Regions from separate parts of the Homo sapiens genome. Here region 2 is linked to region 1. Evidence: fine-mapped expression QTL. A gene starts in region 1. The other region holds a variant in brackets. All regions are shown on one strand. Distances are between the middles of the regions.

Region 1 (4,392 bases):
CAAGTGTTGTTACAAGGGTTTGAAACCAGATAGCGTGGATGTGTCGGGAGTCTATGCTAATGGTCACAAAGTTCATAGGCACCATAAAGTTCAAAGCAAACTAATTGCTAACAACCCCAGTTTTTCTGTTTGTTTTTGTTTGTTTGTTTGTGTTTTGAGACAGGGTCTTGCTCTGTCGTCCAGGCTGGAGTGCAGTGGCACAATCTCAGCTCACTGCAACCTCTGCTTCCTGGGCTCAAGCAGTCCTCCCACCTCAGCCTCCTGAGTAGCTCAGACCACAGGCGCATGCCTGGATAATTTTTGTATTTTTTGTAGAGAACAGGTTTCACCATGTTGCCCAGGCTGGTCTCGAACTCCTGGTCTCAAGCAATCTGTCCCCCTTGGCCTCCCAAAGTACTGGGATTACAGGTATGAACCACTGTGCCCAGCCCCAGTTATTCTTTACATTTAAGTCAAAAACGAAAACAAAAAATCACCCTTTCCCATGGATTCTCACAGAAAGATCACTACATAATATGAACAATATCCTCAGCAGACATCTTAAGCTGAAACTGTGTTGAGTTTTATCGGGATGCTTATTATTCAAAATGTCTCTTACTACAGAACTTGCTTTGACTGCATCCTCAGAGGCTGAAAATCTTTGACAGTTGAAAGAATGAAGGATGTGCCATCCCCAAATATGCCATATAATATATTGATTACTTTGAGTTGAAAACATTAGAGAAATTATAGTTTCAGAAAGGGTAAAACTGAGGGCTGACCTGATTAGGCCTGACACTTAATTTGCCTTGCTTGCTTTTGGTCACTTGCTTCTAGTCGATTTTAAAACCTGCATAGCTAAAAGTCATGTAGCTAGACGATACATAACTAAATTCCACTTGCCTCCTTATAGATAACTTCTCTGATAGGACACCATGGAAAATATTGCTTAAGTTATTTTTCAGGAACTTAGAGTCAGTTCTTGTCCAGTTCAAGCCACCAGCCCTTCATCTTGGCCTGCGTGAGTGTCCAATGGGTGACCTTTTGACATCAGAAGGCCCAAAACTCCACTCTCAGATCATGCTAACGTCACGATTTTGTGAACATGTGTTCTATGAACAGCCATGAAGATTGACTATGCTTGCTCAGATTACCGATTGCCTCACTTTTCCTTACCTCATCTTTCTCTGAACCTTGGACCACCTTCCTCCCCTATCCCATAAGCACTCCTAAAATTCCATCTTTGGAAAGGCACATTTGAGGCCTGTTCTCCAGTCTCCTGTCTTGGCTGCCTTGTGAATACACCCTTTCTCTACTGCAAAACTTGTGCGCCTCAGTGATTGGCATACTGTGTGAAAGACAAATGAGCCTGGTTCCCTGACAGGAGCTGAGCTGTCTCTTCCTGCATGCAGCCAGCAATAAAGATTCCTCTAGGAGAGGTATGTTCTCCACGCCAGAGCGAGAAAATAGCTCTCATCACCAGAGATTTGGAACTGGAGGTGGCATTTGGACTGGAGTAAACATTCTTGCAAAGTAACCATTATCTTCCACCTGTTTTACACCCCACCCCCCATATATCTCCTAGGGGCTCCCCTAGAAATTTTTTACCACCCTAGCCGGATTTTCTTTGTCCTGTCACTTCTTCTTAAATTTATCACTCTTTTTCTAAAAAGTATAAAAGCATCTTGCTTTGGACACTTTCTTCAGGATTCAGTCTCTTAACATCCCCATGTACATGTAAAATTAATAAAATTTGTATACTTTTCTCTTGTTAATCTGCCTAGTGTCAATTTGGCTTCTAGATGCAGCTGATTAGCTCACTAAGAGCTAGAGGGTGTAGGGGGTTGGAGGTGATCTCTGCCTCCCTTATTGGTGAACTTGATTTTTGTAAACACTCAAAAGTCACTTAGGCTAGAGTTGGAGATGGAGATGGTTATTCACTGGGAAGGCCACAAGAGAATGTTTTAAAGTGATGGAAATATTTCATATCTCGATTATGGTGTAAGGACATTTCATTATATATAAATTATATATCAATTTTTTAAAAAGCTCTCAGACCAAGGCTAGTCATTACAGCAAGAAAATAGGCATAGCAAATTTAAAACTTTGGAGAAATATATAGAATATTTGCATATGGTGATTCTGATTTGCTTTAAAAGTGACATGATTAATGTATTTAGACAAAAATACTCTTCGTTTTTCTTTGCTTTTATTTACGATCAGGATACAAGAATTCTACGCTGCTGCCAAATAAATGACTAGTTAAAATTAACTAACTGAATCCTTAACAACCATTCTAAGAGGCAGATATTATTATCCCACTTTATGCGTGAGGGCCCAGAACCCTGGCAAGGGCGGCACACTCAGTACGCTCTTCAAGCATCTGGGCACACCCGGTCCACTACAGTCCTACAAAGTCGGACGTGAGCACGGGCGAAGGCGTCAGCCGGGGCCACACGGGAGTCACTGACCACAGCCAGGCGAGAGCCGGCTTTCCGGTGCCGCCACATTCCGGGCACCAGGCTCCGGGCTCTTCAGAGCATTTGGGGCGGGCGACGGAGGTCCCGTCCACTCTCGCTTGGGTGCAGAAGGGCGCGGCGGTGCCAGGAAGCCGCCTTGGAGGCTCCAAGATTAGCTCACTCAGCGCGGCCAAGCGCAGGTGCGGGGGCCCTCGCCGCCACCCTGCTTATCTGGGGACAGTCCCGGAACCCGGTGACCCGGCTCCGCCCCAACCCGCGCCCTCGTCCACCCGCAGCAGCCAAGGCCTCTTCCCCGGCCCCGGGAGCCCGCGCCACGCCCGTCGCTCGCGCGTTCCAGTCCAGGCTACAGCAGGTATCGCGATCCCGGCCCTCGGCCCCGCGCTCCCCTCCCCCGCCCCTGGCGCTCTCCGAGTGTGGCCGACCATGAGGATTCCCAGTCTTGCAAATCGTGGGAGCGTGTCAACCGCCCCGTTTCTTTCCAAAGCCGGGCATGGCCCGGAAGCAGCTGATCAGATCTTAGTTCTGAATGTATAGTTCGGGTACGAGAATGTGACCCGTGAAAGTTCAGAGGAGTTAAGTAATTACAGCGTTCTGAAAGCGAACGTTAAAGGGAATTTACAACCGAAAAAAGATGCCGGTCTTCTTCCCCCATCCCAGCTTGCAATTCACAGAAGCACACATTAGGGTGGAGCCAGAAGGAATTACGGAAAGGACAATGAGGACATTGAGAGGGAGGGTATGGGGGGTTAAAGTTAGTCCTCCGAGGCCAAGAAGCAGAGTGTCTTGGCCTAGTGTCTGAAAATCGCAGCGCAGGACGGAACTTCCGAGAGCCTATACCTCCCCACTTCCCCCTCCAGTTTACAGATGGGCAAACCGCTGTCCCGGGTGTCTGTCAGGTCTAGTAGCCCAGAATCTCAGTGCCTAGGCTTCACTGTAAATAATAAACTATGTAAATAACATTTACAAATATCCTTTGTGAGCTCAGAAACTCAGCATTACCAGTAACTGGGTAGTGGAACGCATCCATCTTCGTCGTTTACTCCTTCTCCAGGGGCTCTCCAGCCTGCATTCCATGGCCAACAGCAGTGCAGCTGCAGAAGCACTTCTGGAAGCCTCCTGACTTGAACTAGACCTTGGGTAAATAGGGTTTAGATAAGTGGAGGGGAGGGAAAAGTTTCACCTGAGGGGAGAATGAGCTAGTCTGCCAGACCCTTATAAAAGTATTGGCCTGGATGGGATGGAGGGCTTTGACCTGAAAGCCACAGGGAGAAGGGAACCCTGAGGAATTGGCTGAAAGAGGGGGGTTCTTAGGAAATGCACCAACAGGGAAGCCAGCGCTTTACCAGGGATTTCATTCATGGTGGGTATATTATTAATAGAGATTCGAATTCTCTAGAAGCTGATCATTTCTAAGAGAAACAATATTTAAACATTACTGTCGAAGGAAAGGTTGTGGGGAGAAAATGTTCTAGTTCTAAAACAGAACACCCATTTTCCCTGGTTGTATATGAATAATACAAATATGTCAAAAATCAAGCTTACTATGTGCCAAGCACTCTAAGAACTTTTTTTTTTTTTTTTTTTTTGAGACAGAGTCTTGGTCTGTCGCCCAGGCTGGAGTGCAGTGGCACAATCTCGGCTCACTGCAACCTCTGCCTCCTGGGTTCAAGCGATTCTCCTGCCTCAGCCTCCTGAGTAGCTGGGACTACAGGCATGCACCACCATACCCGGCTAATTTTTGTATTTTTAGTAGAGATGGGGTTTCACCCTGTTGGCCAGGCTGGTCTCGATCTCCTGACCTCAGATGAGCCACCCACCTCGGCCTCCCAAAGTGCTGAGATTACAGGCGTGAGCCACCGCGTCCAGCCAACTTTATGAAATTTAATTTATTTATTCCTAACAACAAATCCAGGAGGTTGTTACTTTTTAAAAT
Region 2 (4,392 bases), 69 kb after region 1:
CAGAGAAATTGTAGTGAAATATCACAGAGAGTTCTTGCTGAAAGACACTCAGATGTCCTGGGGCTTGTGTCTACTGTACTGCGGACTGACTACTCCTCTTTTCTTCCTTTGAAAAACTTATCCTTGCCTTCTCAGATCAATCCAAGGGGGTTCCTGGGGACAGCTGGTCCAACACGCTCAAATGAAGAAAGTAAGGTTTAGTGAGGTATGGTTTGCAAAAAGTCACATATTTGATTAGTAGCAAAGCCAGACATAGAAGCCAGGACTTTGGACTCCCAGTCCTGGCCTCTTTCTCATTTACCATGCTGCCTGCCTCCTGATGTTTGGAAAACATTCCTAAAGCTGGGGATTTTACACCTTCACTTGAATGGTTTTCTTTATAGGCAGAGGGAAAAGTACTGATCTTTGGAAGAGTTAGGATTAAAAACTAATAAGATGGGGGTACAGGGTGTTTAGGAGGAAGAATAGATACAGCAAGGCAAAAAAGGTGGGAAAAAGAAAAAAGGAGGTAATAGGAGAGATAAATATATGAACAATAAAATGGAAGAAAACAAGAGACAAGTGAAGAGGGAGAAATGAACTGAGAAGACATAGAAAATGGACACTTAAGAGCAGCAAACTGGCCAGGCATGGTGGCTCATGCCTGTAATCCTAACACTTCGGGAGACCAAGGCAGGAGGATTATTTGAGCCCAGGAGTTCGAGAACAACCTGGGCAACATGGGGAGAGTTTGTCTCTACAAAAAAATTTAAAAATTAAACATTATCCAGGCACAGCGACATGTGCCTGTAATCCCTGTTACTTGGGAGGCTGGGATGGGAGGATCGCTTGAGCTTTTGGAGGTAGAGATTGCAGTGAGCCGACATCATGCCACTGCACTCCATCCTGAGTGACAGAGTGAGACCCTGTCTCAAGAAAGAAAAGGAAAAAAGAACAGAACATCAAACTGAGGCAATCAAGGACTGAGAAGAAATTGGAGAAGAAAGAAGAGAAAAATAGAACCAAGAAAAGAGAAGAAAACCAGGAAGAACAACATGAGAAAACAGAGAGCTGCTGTGAGTCGAAGAGAGAGTGTATAGGTGGATGGGCAAGTTGGACCAAGAGGGATCCATAGGACATAAGGAGCATGCGTGGATGCAGGATGAACGAGTAGGAAGGCGAACAGCTGCACAGAGGGAAAGGAGTGATCAGAGTTGTCAATGCACACTTCGGGGAACTCAACAAAGTGATCTGGGGTGTTAGATTGATCCTTGGAATTACCTCAGAATGAGCTGAACTATGGTTCTAAGGATGCTGGTAACACAGGAGATTGTAAATTCCATATCTACAAAACTAAATCTCTAACCTTTCATCAGTCATCTCTATGGCCTCTTTCATCATTTATATAACCTGTTTTTCAAAATAGACAAACATTCACTCATTCATTTCATGTACTCTGGAGGCCTTCCTCACTGGGCTAGTTTCTCAGGTAATTTATTGGTGCTTTCTGAAGAACCATGGGAGGCGCCTTCCAAATTGGGAACAATGGGATTTTCCTCAGGAAATTCAGGCCTACATCATGGTTGGGTGGAGTTACAGAGAAAAACATCACAGTATTATGAGGGCAGCCAGGGAAACATGAGAGCAATTTCCCAGAACCACTGGGCACAGCCTTTCTTGTAGACTCTCTGGGAGGGAAATTCTGTGAGGGAAATCCTGCACGCACTGTTAGGCCCTCCAGGATTTATGCACATCCTACCTCCCACAGGTGTGGGTGACTGGGGAAAGCCAGGCTGCCATATACCTATCTGATCATAGTAACATTTAATCATAGCAGTATCTAGTCCTCTGTCTGTGTGATCAACAAACACATTCTCCACTGGGTGAGAGGAAAGCAAGATGAGGACATTTTCCTCCCCGAGCTATTAGCTCATAATCACAATCCTCTTTAAAATATGCAGTTTTAACAGAGATGCCTGCCCAGTCTAGGCTAAATAACAACTGCTTTCCAGGACGGGCTCTGTATCAGGAAAGACAAGCAATCAGAATTAGAACCCTGCCACATTCTTTTTCTTTTAAAATGCATGCCACAAATAAAAGCCCCTTAAGCCCCAGCTGTGGCCTCAGCTATTAGAATAAACTTGCAAAAAAACAGCAATCTACCTTCCTGCTCAACGTATCAACCAGCCCACTTTCTAAAATGCAATCAAGTTAATAACGAATGAGTTTTTAAAATCCCTTCATGCCTTGCATGCACCCGGAGTGAGTTGCTATCTTCAAAGTTGGGTTAATGCCACTTTCTGTGAGTCCTCTAAGAGGAAATGTTCCA[C/T]GAATGATTTTTTTTGCCCTAACAAGCTGAGTTAAGGCCAGCCATTGACAGGAATGTGCAGCGGCTGCCTTCTGAGTACTTACATAGGATCCTGAGCCGGTGGCTGTGCCCATGTTAGTTCTCCCTTCACCTCATGTACTCCCCATCACTCCTATAATCCATAAACGATTCTGATCCTGACACCTCCTCAAAATCCTCCAGCACCAGACTGGTGGAGTCCTCACCCAGTATGCCACTGTCTGGCCTGGACAACCTGGCCCGGGTAGGAGGTGCAGGAAAGTTGGTGGTAGCTGGAGGGGTAGAACAAGGGGGTGTTTGCTGGAGAGAGGTGGGTGTGGCCTGAGGAGGGGACACAGCTGGCTCACAGACTTCCTCATCACCCTTCTCGGACTCTGGTCCAGCATCTGCAGCAGTGGGACCCAGGACATGGTAGAGGCTGGGAAGGCGGATGTCAAAGCGCAGCCCAAACTTAGCAAAGAGCTTGTCATTGAGAGTGTAGAGCTTCTCTGAGATGTCATATCCCAGCAGAGCCGAGAAGAGGCAGGAGATGTATCGCTCTTTGGTCAGAAGAAGATGGAGACTTTTCCGGGGCCAGGAAATGTAGCTACATGAGGTCTCAGCAGTCAGAGTGACCTGAGAGGGGTCAGAAGCAGACAATAAAAGTTTAAACTAGAAAATTTGTCCATGCTGAGCACAGAGATCATTCAGTCACTTGGCAAACAGCTGTACTTTTACTGAAGAAGCTGTGTGGGAGTACCCCTCTATGGCCTTGCCTGGAGGAGGTCTAGTGGATGACTTTCACTTGTGTGCACTGATATGGGGGGGTCCTGTGTCAGGAGCCCTGGGATCAGCCATTCACTCACTCACCCATCACCTCCTGAAGCCTCAGTTTCCACATCCACTTTCCTCAACTGTAATTCTGTGGTTCCGTGGCTAATGCCACTAATGACTGCAGAAAGTTCTGAGTCTTATGATTTTAAGATAGAGAAAGAAGGGGCCTTCTTGTGCTCTGAAGAGTGGTTGAAATGCTGACAACTATTCATTTTAAGAATGAGGAAGGGTAAGATATTGGGGTAGGGACATAAAAAGAGTTGGAAAGTTGAGTTTGAGAAAAAGCTTCTGATGAGGTATGCCAAGCTACATCAGGATCCCAAGCCTGGGATTCAGGTTGGGATACGAGCAAGTTACGAAATTGCTCGTAACTTGGCCATTTCAAGTAACCAAAAGGATCTGATGACTGAAATCAGAAAAAGGGCATAGCGGAAGACAAACTCTAAAGGGTAGAAAATCAAAGGGCACCCCATTCTCCATTTGTTTATTCATCTAGGAATTTCTGAGTACTCACTATGTGCCCATGATGCAAAGCTAAATTACGCTTGCATGGGAAATAAGCAATAACGTGTGCCTAGCATGCAGCAGGTGTTTGATAAATCCTTGTTAAAATAATGATAAGTGGTAAAGCTGGGGTTAAAATGGAAACATGCTTAGGACAGTGCAGGAAAAGGGTGCAGAATCACACAATTTTTAATAATCTAATTGACCCTAATACTTTGGGCTGGCAGAGTTCATGATATATTTTTGTGGATGGAGACAGTGGAAATGATGATGATAATGATGTTAGCAGCTAATATTTGTCAAGAGGTGCCAGGCGTTGTGTTAAGCACTTTATATGAATTGTCAAATTTAAAGTAGGGTAGCTTTCCAAACATTCTTTATTAGAGATTATATATAATCCTTTTCATTCCTGTATTGCCTACTGGATCTCCCATTACCCTCCTCTTCTCTTCTTTCCTTTCTGCTATACCCCTCCCCCACGTCCTTTATTCATTTCCTCCTCTCAACTTTTCTCCACTAATTGCTAGCACTGCAATCAGGACCTAAACTACGTTATCGAGGCCAGAAGTGGTTTCATGTTTCAGCTTTACCTCTATCAGTTGTATGATGTCAGATAAATTACTTAATCTCTCTTGCCTCATGAGAAAGAATTCTGAAAATAATACAATCTGTCCATTACTAATAGTTCAGCAAGTAGTTGTCACATCTGCCATGGCCTGTACCTTAGATGTACTTATGAACAATTCCCA

What was found. PIP is the estimated chance that this variant, and not a neighbour inherited with it, causes the effect. A credible set is the group of variants that fine-mapping cannot tell apart.
Region 2: its variant is the best candidate, but not a certain one, in a credible set for the expression of ADPRH in thyroid (GTEx, PIP 0.76).

Annotation. Positions count from the first base shown.
Region 1 is chr3:119,577,041-119,581,432 of GRCh38, forward strand. ADPRH (ADP-ribosylarginine hydrolase) reads left to right here and starts at 2,452. Exons shown (of 5, transcript NM_001125.4): 1 at 2,452-2,811; 2 at 3,511-3,596. RefSeq lists enhancers at 2,056-2,557, 2,342-2,441, 3,382-3,601 and a silencer at 2,622-2,761.
Region 2 is chr3:119,645,728-119,650,119 of GRCh38, forward strand. POPDC2 (popeye domain cAMP effector 2) reads right to left here. Exons shown (of 4, transcript NM_001369919.2): 3 at 2,392-2,941. The coding sequence ends at 2,435. Among named protein-coding and RNA genes, the nearest start is that of POPDC2, 13 kb to the right of the region's middle. The variant C/T (reference allele first, on the strand shown) is at 2,309.